2 separate regions of the Homo sapiens genome follow, and region 2 is linked to region 1. The links come from fine-mapping of genetic effects on gene expression. Tissue or cell type: whole blood. Region 1 holds a variant in brackets; the other region holds the start of a gene. All regions are shown on one strand. Distances are between the middles of the regions. Region 1 overlaps TTC23 (tetratricopeptide repeat domain 23). Region 2 holds the start of LRRC28 (leucine rich repeat containing 28).

Evidence for each region. PIP is the estimated chance that this variant, and not a neighbour inherited with it, causes the effect.
Region 2: it holds the start of LRRC28, and the variant in region 1 is fine-mapped to the expression of LRRC28 in whole blood (TOPMed, PIP 0.93).

What each region holds. Positions count from the first base shown.
Region 1 is chr15:99,224,459-99,233,011 of GRCh38, forward strand. TTC23 (tetratricopeptide repeat domain 23) reads right to left here. Exons shown (of 14, transcript NM_001288615.3): 5 at 4,075-4,274. The coding sequence starts at 4,254. Among named protein-coding and RNA genes, the nearest start is that of TTC23, 21 kb to the right of the region's middle. The variant G/T (reference allele first, on the strand shown) is at 3,979.
Region 2 is chr15:99,246,668-99,255,220 of GRCh38, forward strand. It overlaps LRRC28 (leucine rich repeat containing 28), which reads left to right and starts at 4,814. Exons shown (of 10, transcript NM_144598.5): 1 at 4,814-4,874. It overlaps TTC23 (tetratricopeptide repeat domain 23), which reads right to left and starts at 2,914. Exons shown (of 14, transcript NM_001288615.3): 1 at 2,504-2,914. RefSeq lists an enhancer at 4,289-4,338 and a silencer at 4,589-5,128.

The DNA.
Region 1 (8,553 bases):
CTTCTATGATATAAGTTTGAATGGCTGCACAGTATTTTATTATATGACTATATCATAACTGCATTACTCAATCCACTCTTTATTGGGCATTTAGCTGTTTGTAAATTTCTTACTCACTGAATATCCTGTATGGATAGCTTTGCACATACCCATAAACATTTCCACAAAACAAATTCCCACAAATGGGATTGCTGTATAAAGGATATGCAAAATTCTGAGGCTGTGAGTAGCTATTGAAGTGCCTCTCCCAGAGGTTGTACCAGTTCATACTTTCAGCGCAGCACATGTGAGCAGAAATGCCCCTTACGTTGAACTGAGTACAAATTGTGGAGTTTTTGTTTGGTTTTTAGTTTGTCAGTTTGTCAGTTAGCCCATTTCTCCTTGATTTAGTCCACATTTTTCTCCCAAATTGATGAGGCTGAGCATCTTCATGTGTTAACTGGCTGTTTGTACTTCTTTTGGGAATCACCTTTTTATTGCCTCTAGACACAGGAAGTTTAGGGAATGACTACTTTGGAGAGAGAGAAAGAGAACAACAACTACAGTGTATGAAAGACACGGAAATGATGACAACATCATGGAATCCAGACAGACAAAAAGAGAGGTAGATCTGTTTTGATAGTGAATCTGTCCCAACTACAGATTTCCAGCGAAGAGGACGGTGCAGGCTGAGTTGGGCTTCCCTGATAATAGCCTTGGTTCTCAGGACCTGAGTAGGGATAGAGGTATACAAGAAACAGCTTGTCCTTCCTTCACGTCCTTATTTGTTACAAGGCATGGTCCAAATATCCCTATTGGTTTTCCAACCTTTATTCTACCAGTTCCAGTGACTTTAGCAATAGGCATCAGTAAGGGGCAGACAGAAGACAAGCACGAAGTAGGAAGGCAATTTCAAAACTGGGAGGAACCTTGGAAATCATCTCACCTGGTCCCCTCAGTTTAAAGATGAAGGAGTCTAAGGCTGGAAAGTCGAGATGATTTACCAGCAAGTGGTAGCGCCAGGAAGTGGTTAAACCGTAAGGGGATGCATTGAGGACTCAGGAGCCAGCTGGAAGGGTCTCTCACTGGCAGATACGGAACAATCCGAGCTTCCATGAAAATAACAGGTTGTAGTGTATTTGAAAAATACAATTTCCTGAACCCATACTGATAGGAATAAATGAATGATAAATAAGCTGTGAAGAAAGAAAAGCTCTTCCTTATAATAGAATGCCAACAAACAAATGTTGAAATAATGTGGAAGTCAGAGACTGGCTATGTGACAAACATCATAGTAATAACTGATTCAGGTGGCAGAGTGAAGTTTTAAATATATACATAGTCTCAGTGAATCTACCCACAAAATACTTATTAATTACAAAGGGAAAAATGGCAATTCTGCAGTAAAGAAACCTGCCAGACAGCACCTTAACCAAGTGTTCAAGGTTGGCATCACTGTACGAAGACAAACAGACATTCTGCACCTCCTGACAGGACGCACTAAGGAGCGCCCCATGTCACACCTGTGGTAGTCCTGCTCCAAATGTACAATCTGAATAGAATCATGAGGAAGCATAAGACGAACTCAAACAGAGAGATATTCTACAAAACAATTAGAGTATATATTTCCAAGATATCAAGATCATGAAAAACAAAGTAGGTTAAGCAATTGTTTCAGATTAAAGGAGACTAAAGAGACATGACAACTCTATTTAACATGAATTCACAGACTGAACCATGGGTCTGATTGTTTTCTGTAAAGGACATTATTAAGAAGAAATATAAACAAGGTTTACAGATTAGATAATAGTATTATACTGACATTAATTTCCTAATTACGATCACTGTACTGTGGCCATGTAAGGGAATAGCTTTATTCTTAGGGAATAAACACTGAAGAATTTGGGGGTAAAGGGCCATAATATCTATAACTTACTCTCAGTTCAGAAAAACAATTAGAGTCAGAGAACAAAGCAATAAAGCAAATGTTAAAAATGAGTGAATCTTGTGCCTTTTCTGTAAGTCAGAAATTATTTTAAAATACAAAATTACTAAAAAACTGATATTTTAAAAAGTAAATTACGTCATGTTAATACCATGCTGAAAATATTTTTAAGGCCTTCCAGGGCACTTAGCTTGAAACCTGCAAGGCCCTAAGTGAACTGACAGCCTCTCTCACTATATTTAATGTCAGCTTGCAGCTTCTTCTCCTTGCTTCAGATATGTCCTGCTTGTGCCTACCCTGTAGATTTATGTGTGCTGTTTCCTCTCCCTGGAACTCCTTTCCCTCAGCTCCTCCACACTGGCTCTTCTCTTCCTCAGGTCTCAGCTTATCTGTCACGTCTTCCTGGAGGCCCTCCCTGATCACCCTACCCAAGACGGAGCCACTCTATGTCCTCCTTAGCACTTATCACAGTCTATAATAATCCGGTTCATTTACAATGTTGATTGCCTCTCAGGTCCATCAGGGTATGCACCTTGTCTGTCCTGTTCACCATTGTATGCTGGATTCTTCACCAGAACCACAGAACAACGAAATGTTTAATACCATTCTAGTTACACAGAAAAGAAGTTAATTCTTTACATTTGTTAAATGCCTTTGGGCATGAGGGCTTAATTCTTTTGCAGAAGTCTGTTTGAGAAAGGCTGCCAGCCTAGAGCCTACAAATAGTAGGTTCTGAGTGAGTATCTGTTGCATAATGAACAAGCACAACCTCAAAACCAAATTTATGCTCTTTCTCTATAATCCTGGTCTTTCTCCTGTATTTGTTATACTGATGAAGGTCATGGACAAGTCTCCAATCACCCAAGCAGACTCAGACCTTGGGTGGTGGGAATTCTACACACCCCATCTTTCTCACTCTCACATCTCCATTCCCTATGTCCCCTCAGTCATCCAGTCCTGTCCCACTGATTTGCATTTCTAAATTCCTTTCAAAAGAGCTCAGCATTTCTATTGTCTCTGCCACACGTAGTTCAGGTCCTCATAATTACTTGCCAGGATTACTGCAAATATCCTCCTAACTGATGCTCCTTTTCCAGTTTTACTCTTTTTTTGTCCATACCCTTCACAGCTATGGGAGTGACTGTTCTTAAAATCAGACCTGCTCATGGCATGCTTCTGCTTATAACCTCATGGTAATCCTCCATCATCTTTAGGAGAAAATCAAAACTCTTTCACTAGGCCTTGAGTGCCCTCTGGGCCTCAGTTCCTGCCCATAATCCAGCTTCATTTCTTGCCCTGTGTCACTAACACATTAGTCCCAGACAGCTCCTTACAGTTCCCCAGACAGACTGCACTCCCTCAGACCATTGGCTCTTGTCCATCTGCTACCTCTGTCCAGAACATTTGGTCCTCTTCCTCACCTGTCCAACTCCTAAGCACTGTTTACCAGTGCAGTCTACGTAACTCCCATCCGAAGAAAGTGTGCCTTAACTGCTGTCCCTCTACCACCTCCAGGCTCACTGTCCACCCCTTCGTGTTTTGCATCTATGTCACTCGAGCTCTCACAGAACTCATCAACCTGACTACCATTATCTGTCCCCCGTCTATCTTCCCAACCAAATCCCGAGTCCCTCCAAGACAAAGACTGTGGCTTTTCCTTCTGTGCCCCTGGCACCTACATTGCACCTGGCACATATTAGTCATACAATAGATATTTATGATGACTGGATGAAGAGGACCCAACATATAAGAGGTGATAGAGAAATGCCTACTGAATGAGTTAGTGAATGAGTAAAACTTTTGAGGAAAGAATGGGAAAGAAGCATGCAGAGAACAAGATTTGAGATTATAAGGAATTACAAGCTCTATGAGAGCAGAAGCTGCATCTGCTTTGTTTGTGTTGTATCCCAATGCCTAGACTTGGCACACAGTGCGAGCTCAACAAATATTTGTTGTTGGCCATGCGAACTGCTGTGCTTGGAGCCTAGAGGTACTGCATTCATTCATGTTATAACAAAGGCACTGTCTTATATACTTTCTTGTATCAAACTGCT[G/T]AGATTAGGAATGTAATCCAAAACATTCTACTTCTCTTGATTATACCATATAGCTCAATTCTCAGAGTAGAAATACAGAAACAAAAGTCTCCTTACCTCATGACTGTTGGAATAGGACTTTGCTTTCTCTTCACAGAGGTGGAGTTTCTCTCGAGGAGGCTGGAATAGTGCTGTCTGAAGCAGCTTGTTTTGGAACTTCTTTCTATGAGTGATGCTAACAGCAGCAACAACTTCATCTAGGTGGTTGGATATGTGGGTTTCCTGTGATTCTTGCATATTTTTATATACATTGTCTTCTAATTTTAAAATAAAAAACAAAGATGTTAAATGATAATTTCCATAGTTACTTTTAGAAATATACATTTCAACACTATACCCATAATTTCTTTGAAATTAGTAGCATTATATCCCAAAAGATTATGGTGGCTACTACTGACCTGCTGATTTCTACTTTCAACTAAATTAAACCTTCTTTCTTTATGTATATAGACATACATATATATATGCCTACATACATATACACACATACATACACATGTATATAAACACACATACATACATGTATATGTGTATGTATTACACACATACATACATACGTAAAGTCCAGTAGAAATTAGCCTAGCACATACATATGTATTTGTATGTACATATATATATAAAGTCCAGTAGAAATTAGCCTAGCACATACATATGTATTTGCATGTACATATATATATATATATCTAAAGTCCAGTAGAAATTAGCTTAGCCCAAACAGCTCTCAATGACCCCAGATTAAATCAGCTGAAGCCCAATTGACCCTGAGGTAGAAAATAAATAATTGTTGTTACAACTTTTGCTTCTGGCCAAGATGAAGTCTAGTAACTACATTTATCCTCTTGCCTGAAATAACCCAAAACAAACAGATAAGCAGCCCACAGAACAAAGGATAAAACAACGGTTTCAAGAAACAAGACAAGCAATGAGAGAGCAATTCCTGAGAGATGGAAAAAATAAATCACCCCAGTTTATTGCTTTGAGAGAGTTTCCAGGAAACAGCACAGGGAAGAGGGGACCCAGAAGTTATCCCAGTGGACTACCTGAGTTGAGGAAGTAGAGTTGAGAGTTTGGGGAGACCAAGGTGACTAGAACTGACAGGACAAATTACTGAAGAGGAGAAGGCTCCAGAGACAGAGGAACCAAGATATTAGCAGAGGGACACCCTCAAGTATAGGGACAGAATACTGATTAGCATGTGTGTAAGAAAAGTATTTTAGTCTGGAGAAAGAATCCTTCAATAAGGTTACAGGGAACAGTGTTTTGTGCTAACGTAAGGCTGGCGCCTGTTCCCACCAACCAGACTGAAAAAATTTCTAATTCATGAGGCATTAGATAGTTAGAGTACTCAGAAGCCTTTCATCTCAGTAGAGGCGATAATTAGCTCTAGACTGAACACTGCTCAGATCACCACACAGATCAAAAAAGTAAGACCTAAAAGGATCAAACTGTTTTCAAGGGACTTAATTGCACTAGAGGATAATACTCAAGGATGTTCATAGGAATACTAAAATAACCAACACCTAACGAGGTAAAATTCACAAAGTCTAGCATCCAAAGATTACCAAGCATCCAAAGAAGCAGGAAAACATGGCCCATAATGAGAATAATCAATCAAAACTGACCCAGAATTGACACAGATGTTAAATTAGCAGATAAAAACATTAAAACAATTACAATAATTGTATTCTATATGTTTAAAAAGTTAAATAAAGACATGGAAGAAATAAAAAAGACCCAAATGGAACTTCTAGATAGAAAAATTATGTGTGAAGATGAAAATGTGTGGGATTAATGGCAGATAAGATACTGCAGATGAAAAGATGAATTTGTAGACATAGCAATAAAAATTATCAAAAATGAAAAAAAATCAGTGGGCTGTAAAACAACTTCAAGTTGCCTAATATATATGTCATTTGAGTCCCTAAAGAAAAGCAGACTAGAGGAGGGACAGAAAACATATTTGAAGAAATAATGGCCAATATTTTTCCAAATTTAAGAAAAAGCATAAAGCCAGAGATCCAAGAAGCTCAATGAACACTAAACGCAAGAAACATGAAGAAAACTATACCAAATAAAGTCAAAACATCATAAACAAATTGCTTAAAACTATGATAAAGCAAAAATCTCAAAAGTAGAGAAAAAAGACACATTACGTATAAAAAATAAAGATAAAGATGATAACAGATTTCTTAGGGGAATAAAAAGCAAACAAGGAGAGAGTTAAAGATACTTCTTATCTTTAAAGTATGGAAAGAAAAAAGTTGTCAACCTTAAATTCCGTACTGGTGAAAATACCTTTTGAAAACAAAATTTTAAATAATTAATCGCCAGAAGACTTGCACTACAATGTTCTCAAAGAAATGTAAAAGGAAGTCTTTCAGAAGGAAGGAAAATGATAGCAAATGGAACTCTAGTTCTACAAAACAGACGACCTTGGAAATGGTACGTACATGGGCAAATGTGTAAGGCTGCTTCCATATTACAATCATGTCCAGCTCCACAGCATTTCAGTCAATGACTGCATACATAAAGGTAGTCCCATAAAATTACAGTGCAGCTGAAGAATTCCTACTGGGTAGTGATACAGTAGCTGTCGTAACATCATAGCGTAATGCATTGACTCATGTGTTGGTGGTAATGCTGGTGCAAACAAACCTATTGTGCTGCTAGCCATATAAAAGTAAAGCATATACAATTATGTACAGTACACAATATGTGATAATAGTTGATAAATGACTGTTACTGGTTTATATATTTAATATACTACATTTTATACTTATTTTAGAGGGTACTCCTTCTACTTATACATTTCTAAAAGTTAACTGTAGAAAAGCCTCAGGCAGGTCCTTCAAGAGCTATTCCAAAAGAAGGTATTCCATTATCATCATAGGTGATGAAAGCTCCATGCATGTTACTGCCACTGAAGACCCTCCAGTGGGACAAGACATGGAGGTGGAAGGCAGTGATATTGATGATCCTGACTGTGTAGACCTACATTAATGTGTGTGTTTGTGTCTTAATTTTGTTTTTTTTTGAGACGAAGTCTCGCTCTGTTGCCCAGGCTGGAGTGCAGTTGGCACGATCTCGGCTCACTGCAAGCTCCGCCTCCCGGGTTCACACCATTCTCCTGCCTCAGCCTCCTGAGTAGCTGGGACTACAGGCGCCCGCCACCATACCCGGCTATTTTTTTGTATTTTTAGTAGAGATAGGGTTTCACCGTGTTAGCCAGGATGGTCTCGATCTCCTGACCTCGTGATCTGCCCACCTCTGCCTCCCAAAGTGCTGGGATTACGGGCATTAGCCACTGCGCCTGGCCTGTTTGTTTGTTTGTTTTGAGACGGAGTTTCACTGTTGTTGCCCAGGCTGGAGTGCAATGGCTCTATCTTGGCTCACCGCAACCTCTACCCCCCAGGTTCAAGCAATTCTCCTGCCTCAGCCTCCTGAGTAGGTGGGATTACAGGCATGCGCCACCATGCCTGGCTAATTTTGTATTTTTAGTAGAGACGGGGTTTCTCCATGTTGGTCAGGCTGCTCTGGAACTCCTGATCTCAGGTGATCCACCCGCCTTGGCCGCCCAAAGTGCTGGGATTACAGGCATGAGCCACCATGCCTGGCCTGTGTCTTAGTTTTAACAAAAAAGTTTAAAAAGTAAAAAAAGAAAATAAAAAATTTTAAAAATAGAAAAAAGCTTATAGAGTAAGGATATAAAGAAAGAAAAATTTGGCGGGGCGCGGTGGCTCACACCTGTAATCTCAGCACTTTGGGAGGCCAAGGTGAGCGGATCACAAGATCAAGAGATGGAGACCATCCTGGCTAACATGGTGAAACCCCATCTCTCCCAAAAATACAGAAAATTAGCTGGGCGTGGTGGCACATGCCTGTAATCCCAGCTACTCGGGAGGCTGAGGCAGGAGAATTGCTTGAACTTGGGAGGCGGAGGTTGCAGTGAGCCAAGATCAAGCCACTGCACTCCAGCCTGGGCGACACAGTGAGACTCCATCTCAAAAAAAAAAAAAATGATCAAAGGGCCTGATAGATATTCCTCAAAAGATATACAAATGCCCAATAGGTGTATGAAAAAATGCCCAAGATTGTTATCATTAGAGAAATGCAAATTATATCCATGAGATTTCATCTTACACCTGTTAAAATGGCTATGATTAAAAAAAGAAAGATACATGTTGGTGAAGATGTGGAGAAAAGGGAATCCTTGCACATTGTTGGTGGGAATGTAAATTATGGAACACAGTAAGGAAGTTTCTCAAAAATTAAAAACAGAACTACCATATGATCCATGAATCCCACTACTGGGTGATACATCCAAAGAACAGTATTAGTATATTGAAGAGATCCCTGCACTCCATGTTCATTGCAGCATTATTGACAATGATCAAGATACGGTGTTAATGTAAATGTCTATCAACAGATGAATGGATAAAGAAAATGTGGTATGTATACACAATGGAATACTACTCAGCCTTAAAAAAGAAGGGCATCCTGTCATTTGTGACAACATGATGAACCTGGAAAATACTA
Region 2 (8,553 bases), 22 kb after region 1:
CCCAGCACTTTGGGAGGCCAAGGCAGGTGGATCACGAGTTCAGGAGTTCGAGACCTGCCTGGCCAACATGGTGAAGCCCCGTCTCTACTAAAAATACAAAAAATTAGCTGGGCGTGGTCGTGGGCACCTGTAATCCTAGCTACTCGGGAGGCTGAGGCAGAAGAATTGCTTGAACCCGGAAGGTGGACATTGCAGTGGGCCGAGATCGTGGCACTCTGCACTCCAGCCTGAGCGACAAAGCGAGACCCAGTCTCAAACAAACAAACAAACAAACAAAAACCAAAAAAACCAAAAAACAATCAGTAACAAGATGACAACTCAATTAAAAAAATAGGCAAAATATTTGAAAGACATTTTACAAAAGAAGATATATGGATAGTCAACAAGCACATGAAAAGATGCTTCATATCGTCAGTCATCAGGAAAATGCAAATGAAAGCTGTAATAAGATACCACTTAAAATCCAGCTGAATGACTACAATGAATAAGACAGATCATAAGGAGTGTTGGTGAGGATGTGGACAAATTGGAACCCTCATACACTCTGGTGGAAATGTAAAATGGGAAATTCACCTTGGAAAGCAGTTGTGCAACACCTTGAAAAGTTACACCCAGAGTTACCATATGACAGTAATTCCACTCGTAGATATACACCCAAGAAAACTGAAAACACACGTTCATACAAAAACTTGTACCCATCTTCATAGCAGCATTATTCATAATGCTAAATACTGTACTGTATTTACTGTAATACAATTACAATTAGTACAATTAAACACTATATTTAAATACTAGAAGAAATCCAAATGTCTGTTAATTGGTACTGTTAAATAAAATGTGGATTATTACTTAGCAATAAAAAGGAATGAAGTAATGAGACATACTACAACATGGATGAACCTCAAAAACATTATGCTAAGTAAAAGAAACTAGATGCAAAGGATCGCATAATGTGTAATTCCACTTACATGCCCAGAAAAGGTAAATTTATAGACAGAAAGTTTTTTAGTGATTGGGGCTGGGGATAGGAAACCAGGACTTGCCTGCAAATGGGCACAAAGTATTTTTTTAGGATGATGAAAATTTTCTAAATTTTCTAGGATGATGAAAATTTTCTAAATTTTCTAGGATGATGAAAATTTTCTAAATTTTCTAGGATGATGAAAATTTTCTAAAATTGGAATGTGGTGATGGTTGTGATTTTCTAAAACAATCATTGAGTTATATCCTTAAGACAAATGAACTTTATAATATATAAATTATACTTCATTAAAGCTGTTAAAAATAGCTATGAAACCACAACGCAGTTTTATGTGTAATTCTGGTTTTTATACATATTATGACAAGACTTTTATAAAGACGGGGCAACCATGACTCCCCAAGACAGTGTGGCAGCGGTCCCCAAAAATCTTAAAGAAGTAAACTCAATGCTTTCGAAGACTACAAAGAAGTGCATCAAAATTTATATTATTCAACAATGATAAGGTAAATGTATTCGGGTAAGAAGCATGGTTACTAACCTGTGTGCCAGTATTTACACAGCATGGGGCCCCTTAGCTTCTGGTCTCTGCTCTGGTCTAGCCATCTTAAATTCCACTGTCAGTTTTATTGTCTTCAAATATTACTTTCATAAGGGGTGCCTCCTGTTCCAAACACAGGACCCAAACCCCTGATTTTGGGAATTCCGGCTCTTTATATTTCTCATGCTGCTTTTTAAAATTTGTAACCAAAGTTTCCAAATGAACCTTCTGCCGCAGTCAGAACCAACTCTTCCTCAGGCTGCATGTATTTGCTAACAACTCACTCACTAGTAGGGATGCCACTTCCCTTATTTTTCTCTCTGAAATTCTGCCCATTGCTCAGGCCCAAATTGAGTCTTACCCATACTGTGAAGCCTTCTCTGAATAATTCATCTCACATTGAGCTGAGCTCCTGAAGCACCTGTGCTCTACAACAGTCATCCGGGCATTAAGAACTGTTCAGAAGTTTTAGTTTAAATGTTCTGAGCCTCATTTGTCCCTGCTCTTGAGGGGCTGGATTTTATTACTTTATATTCCCCTATATGGATTAACACAGGCAACTTAAGAAATAGTCATGTTCATCAACGTTTCCTTGATAAATTCTTTTGTATTTGTTTTAATTAAAAATGTCATTTTTGAAATATGATTGCTGGATTTTTTTGAGAATTTACCCTTACATGCTGATTCTGCTTCAGGTATCTGTAGTATGTTTTGTTCAGCCATTAGCAGATCTGTCCCTGGAATCCCTAATCCACAAATATACACAAAATTTGGGTTCAAGCAACTCTATTTTCTCCTATATCTTTTAATAGATATATTATCTATTATGCCAGGTATGACAATATATAAACAAAAATATCCATATAAAAATTACAATATTACTAAATGTCCTTCTAAATCCACACTTAAGCAACAATAACGAAGCACAGTTTCTTAAAGTAGAAAATGATCTATAGTTAATCTTATTATCTTGCCTCCTTTACCTTTCAAAAATCCACTGATAATCTGGGCATGATGCTTTCAAACTTCACCCTAAAGAGAAAAATGCTCTCTGAACACTCTTCTTCCTGCTGTCTTTAAATTGTGCCTGTATTTTCTCTGCTTTTCCTTTGACACTCAATCACTCCTTTAAAACTTGTAAAAAACCGGAAAAGTTTCTGTAACTCTCCAATCTCCAACTATGTCGTAAAATCCCTTGCCAGTTTACCCAGTCTGCTGGAGAGGCTCACCGTTTCTTTTTCGAGCGAATTACACAGTTGTCTTGGCAGCGTGATTTGCCCTCTGGTTCCTGCTTTATCAGTTTGGTGATTCTTTGTACAGATTGATAACCATGAAAAAGTCTAAAGTAGGGCAGTTCCGGAGCAGCCTTTTCCCATAAAGCAAGCGGGTACCTCACAAAACTCCAGGCAAAAGAATGAATGATAGAGCACTCACCAATAGCGAGTGGAGAAGAGTATTTTGTCGAAGTTTGCAAACCAATCTTTGGGAGCCAGAGGTGGGAATTTTAAAATGAGGTCTTTTCCTTGGAATTTTCTTAAAGTGGTATCGTTGCCTGTTGATATTGAAGTTTGTCAAAGAACGTGAAATCACCAGCTTAGAGGATTTTTTTCCCCTTTAAGAGAGACAAAACGTGCGAATTGATTCTCTACAAATTGTGAGAACTTCAAGAGTGGGGTCATAAAGTATTATCAAATATAATCACTTGGTAACTTTTGTGTCAATGTGGGGAGGAGGTGAAGGTTATTTTAACATGATTCATTTTTCATGATCAAATATCAGATATTAATCACTGAAAAACAGTATTCCCCATTAAAAAAAAGAAATGAAAACTAAGAGGCTAACATTGTTTTCAAAAAACTGTTCTACTGTTAATCTTTTTTCTTTTTTGGGGGGTGTAACTCTTCATATATTAGCAGCAAGTCTTATTATTTGGGCTGACCATTAAACACCGTATCTTTGTTTTTACACAAAATGTGGATTTCCTCATTTTAAGACCAGCAAAAAATTTCTGAGTGCCACGAATTCTTAGGTATTCCGAAACTATCTTAGAAATACATGACATATACCAACCATGCTGTATACCTGAATAGCTCTTGAAGACCAGATTTAATAGATAACTGATAATTTTTATTATAACTCATACCTTGTTTTAAAACCAATGTTTTTTATTTAATATAACTCTGCTTTCTAGGTTATTCGTCTCTATGAATAATTAAGTCAGCAACTGTAAAAACTACTTCATTATAAAGTTAAAGTTCCTTGACAAGGAGCCTCGCAAACTCATAGACAGGCTTTCCACAGAACAAAAAATATCAGCGGTTGTAGTAGAGGATTATACTTTAAAATCTTCATTTCAGAAGGAAATTTGTCATATTAATGAGACACTTTAAAAAGTGTCTTTTAAAAATGTTTCCGAACTATGCTTCCAAGTATTTTTAACAGCATAAAGCCCTCTTTCATGCTATTTCGCTGACATAATAATTTTCGTCTTGAAGAAATACATATTGACGGCCTACTCAGTCAGGCTAGGAAGTGTCATTGTATTTAACTCTCTAAATTGTTCCTGACCTTTTTAGCAATCTTTACTCAAAATAAACCTTGGGTGTTTGAAGGGCAGAGACTAGGTTACGTCCTCCTCATCTTTGTTATCTACCAGTTCGTAGTGACCCCTTAAATCCGGTGCTTAGACTCACTACTTGCTAAATAACGTTGGCTTCGTTACATAAACCCACTGGCCTGTTTTTCAACGGTCAGACTGGCGCTGTTAGTCCCTGTGTCATGGGATTGCTGTCAAGGGTTCAACGAGATAATCTATAAACAGCTCTTAGAACGAACGCTCAACGTGGGATCATTGTTGTAATCCCTCAACGTGTGCTCTGAATGAGAAGCCGAGTGACTGAATGAATGTATGAATGAAGGAACAGGTCAGTAACTGGCGGTTCCCGAAGTTGGAGCCGACTAAATTACCCCTTCAAGACGCTAAGCAAAAGCCACTCCGTCGACATCAAACCCCACGCCGGAGCCGGAAGCAAGAGTAGAGCCGCGGGCGGGGCCAGCATAGAGGAAGTAGCGCTCTCGGCCAATACACAGATCGCTTGGCAAACGAGCATTTTCCCGCGCCTATCGTGAAAGCGCGAGAACACAGGGGATTATCGCGAGGTTCCGTGCTCCTCTCCCGCTCCCTCTTCCCCAGCTCCCTCTGGCGCGGGTTCCGCTCCACCCCCGGAGCCCCGCCCCCGACGCCCGGCGCTCCGCCCCGCCCTCGCCTGGCTCCCTGCCCCGCCCCGCCCGCCGTCCCCCGCTTGGCTTCCAGCGCCGCTTGCGCTCCGGAGCGCTGGCTCTGCTGGCGCTGAGGTGAGTAGAGCTGTCCGCCTCGTCGGGTGATTCAAGTGGCGAGGCTCTCTGACCCGGCCCCCCGGCGGGGACGCCCCAGACGTGGTCCTGCCAAAGCGTCCGGGTCGCGGCGAGTGGGACAGCGGAGCCGTCCGGGCCTCGGGTGGCCACAGCTGCCGGGTCCTCCTCCCACTCTGCGGCCCGCGGCCCCTGGGACCCGAGAACCCTGATACCGGGTCCGTGAAATCCCTGCTGCTGGGCTCGCTGCTTCCCAACTGTAACGATCTCAGTGGCTGGCTAACTCGGGCGAAACGGCGTGTGTTTTGCCTAAGACTCTGCCAGTGTTTGTTACCACAGCTGAGAAAATAGCCTTTTACAAATGCTTTTAATATGTAGCTTATAGTTCTCTAATCTCCAGCGTTAGGAAATTGGAATGCGTATTCTACTAAATTGAGTACGGGGAGGTCAGTATAAGGGACTCCTTCCTTTCAAAATACTCCTTAATATGTGTGGAATTTTGTTGAGAGGTTTTTGATTTTTTTGTTTTGTTTTTAATAATAAGATAGATTGGTGTTCACCTGTCAGAAAGCTCGTGTGTAAGTGCAGCTGTATACAGCTGATATTAAGTAATACTATTTGCCTTAACTACATAAGAGGTAGTATAACTATACAAGAGGTAGTTTGCTTAACTAGGTAAGATGTAGTCAAGTGAAATGGGGTAAGAAAATTACCTTGTTAAAGGCTGTGTATGGCCCGTGAATGCATACTGCAAAACTGTGAGCATTGTTGATGCTTTATTGCTATTATTGGCAGTTTTAGGATTTCATTTGTTTAGATTTTATCTCCCAAACAGCCTTTGTAGCAATTTTAACAGAGTGTAATGGTGTTTTTGAGGCAGCCAATCCCAGCCAGAACATTCAGAAGGAAAGCCGTCAGGTTACAGGGACTGTCTTATTGAATCTTCCTTCAGTGAGTGTGGTTTTGCATTATAGGGCGGCGGTGCACACGCTTTGTAGTCAGTCCACCTGCGATGGAACTATGGCATGTTACCCTCTGAGAAACTCAGTTTCCTCCTCTACAAAACGGGCTACATAATGTCTATTGCAGTGCATGGTTGTAAAGATTAGACATCCTTGTGGCATGTAGCAAGCTTATAGGCTCTATCCGTGGTCTTGACATAGTTGGATGAAAAATCAACCTTGCAATGTTCTTCCACATGTCATCAGATATTAGAAGGCCTACTTTAAAATTTTAAGTCCCTGGATACATGTGCAGAATATGCCGGTTTGTTACATAGGTAAACGTGTGCCATGGTGATTTGCTGCACCTGTCAACCCATCACCTAGGTTTTAGGAAGGGTTACTTTTAGTTACTGTGCTAGATGCAGGTATGCAAGCGTGAAGAAAACAACGCAGTCCCTGCCCTCAGGATTTCTAAATAAGTTTCGGAAGGGTTTATTTACAGGCTTTTTGGCTTTATTGACAATAGACAGATGCAACGATAAATATTTAAGTGACAAATTGTGAGGAGTCCTACGAAGAAAAAACAAACAGCCAAGTTCCTCTGAAAGAACACCAGGGGAATTACTTTGGGATAGGGAAGTGATTTTTTTTTTTTTAAGACTGAGTCTCGCTCTGTCGCTCAGGTTGGAGTGCAGTGGTGCGATCTCGGTTTACTGCAAGCTCCGCCTCCCGGTTTCAAGAGATTCTCCTGCCTCAGTCTCCCGAGTAGCTGGGATTACAGGCGCCCGCCACCAAACCCAGCTAATTTTTGTATTTTTAGTAGAGATGGGGTTTCGCCAAGTTGGCCAGGCTGGTCTCGAACTCCTCACCTCAGGTGATCCACCCTCCTCGGCCTCCCAAAGTGCTAGGATTACAGGCGTGAGCCACTGCGCCCGGTCTCAGGAAGTAATTTTTATGTTGAAATCTGGAGAATGATGGGACATTGCTTTCTAGGCTAAGAGGAGACCAGCAAGTGCTGTTAGGGGTTTAGTAGCTTTGAGGATTGGAAAAGCCCAGAAGCTTGGTGAGAAGCCAAGCAGAGTTGCTGGAGAAGTGGGTGGGGGCAGATGGTGAGGCACCCTCAAGGCCTAGTATGAGTTGATTTTCTAAGTAAGAAGTTTCTGAAGGGTTTATTTAGTAAGATGTGTACCGAAAAGAGTGAGATGTAATTGGATGTACATTTTTAAAGGCCCATTGCTGGGATTAATGTGTTGGAAGTGACTAGAGTGGACACAGGGAGACTGGTAATACTGTTGGCCAGGCAGGAGATGACTGTGGCTTGTGGTTTTGGCAGATGGAGAGATTTGGATGGATTTGAGATGTATTTGGGAGATAGAGGCCACTAGCCTTGTGATAGATTGGAGGTGGTCAGAATATGAAAGGATGGAATCATTCATGACTTCCTGCTTCTCCGGCTTGAGCCACTGGGTGGATGGAGGGGTGAGCCATTTACTGAGATGGGAAAAACTGTGGAGATTCGGATTGATGATGAAAATGGAAAGCTCTTTGAATGTGTTAAGTTTGAGATGGTTGTGAGACATCTAAACTGCTAACAGTTTCCTAGTTCAGTGAATAATTACCTATGAAGTTTCACTTTCTACACAGAATCATTGATGTTATTTGTAGTCTACTTCCCTTTGCTTTACAGGTAGGATAATTAAGATGTGGAAAAATTATCTTGCACAAAGTCACATTAATATATCTCATAAAATAGGTGAGTAGGTGGAATAAATGTGGGAAAGTATTGGATCCTTACGTTGCTTTGGAAATAGTATTTCATACTTTGCCTTTTTATATAAAATGGCAAGTGCTAGCTCATTAGCCAGGAATTAGAATTTGAAAATAATAAAATATAGCCAGAAAATTACAAAACTCATGTTTATTGAAAGCTTATGTTGCTGCCTTTTGTACTAATTTGGTATTAATTCCCAGTGAAAATCACTTTCCTTAAGAAAAAAAATTATTGAAAGGTACTTTCCAATAGAGAGTTGGGAAAAAGAGCTGAGGAAAACAGTCAAATCTTTAAGCAGAGCTCAACTTCTTTGTAGTTGTTTCAGCATTTCCTTAGTATCCTGTGGAATCTTGTGAGTCAGTGTCTGTGAAGAACCCAAGCTTTGAAATCCACTGGACCTGGTATCAAACCCTTGCTTTTATCCCTTGTGAACGGTCTAACCTTGGACAAATTACTGAAGCCTTGAGTTTGTTTCTTTTTGTGTTAACTGATGGTGAAGTTTGTTTTAGCTCTGTGCCTAGTGGATAAAACGGCAAATGTTACTTGTCTTCTTGCCCTTGTCAATTTTGGAGCTAGAAGAGAATTTATAATAATCTGCCCTGGACTCAGGCCTTTAAACCAGTACATTAATTGCTATCTCCATTCTGCATATTAGGCAACTGGAGACCCAGAGACATTGTAATATTATAGAATAATACAGGATTCTTGTTTCTGAGTGCAGTGTTTCTTCTTTCATTGAAATAATTTAAACTAATGAGACTGTGTGGCCCTGGATCTATTTCTTTGATGCCTCTGATAATCCATAAAGCTAAAAACAAAGAGGCGAGGCATCGTGGCTCATGACTGTAATCCCAGCACTTGGGGAGGCTGAGGTGGGAGGATTGCTTGAGCTCAGGAATTTGAGACTAGCCTGGGCAACACAGTGAGACCCCCATCTCTACGAACAAGTAAAACAATTAGCTGAGTG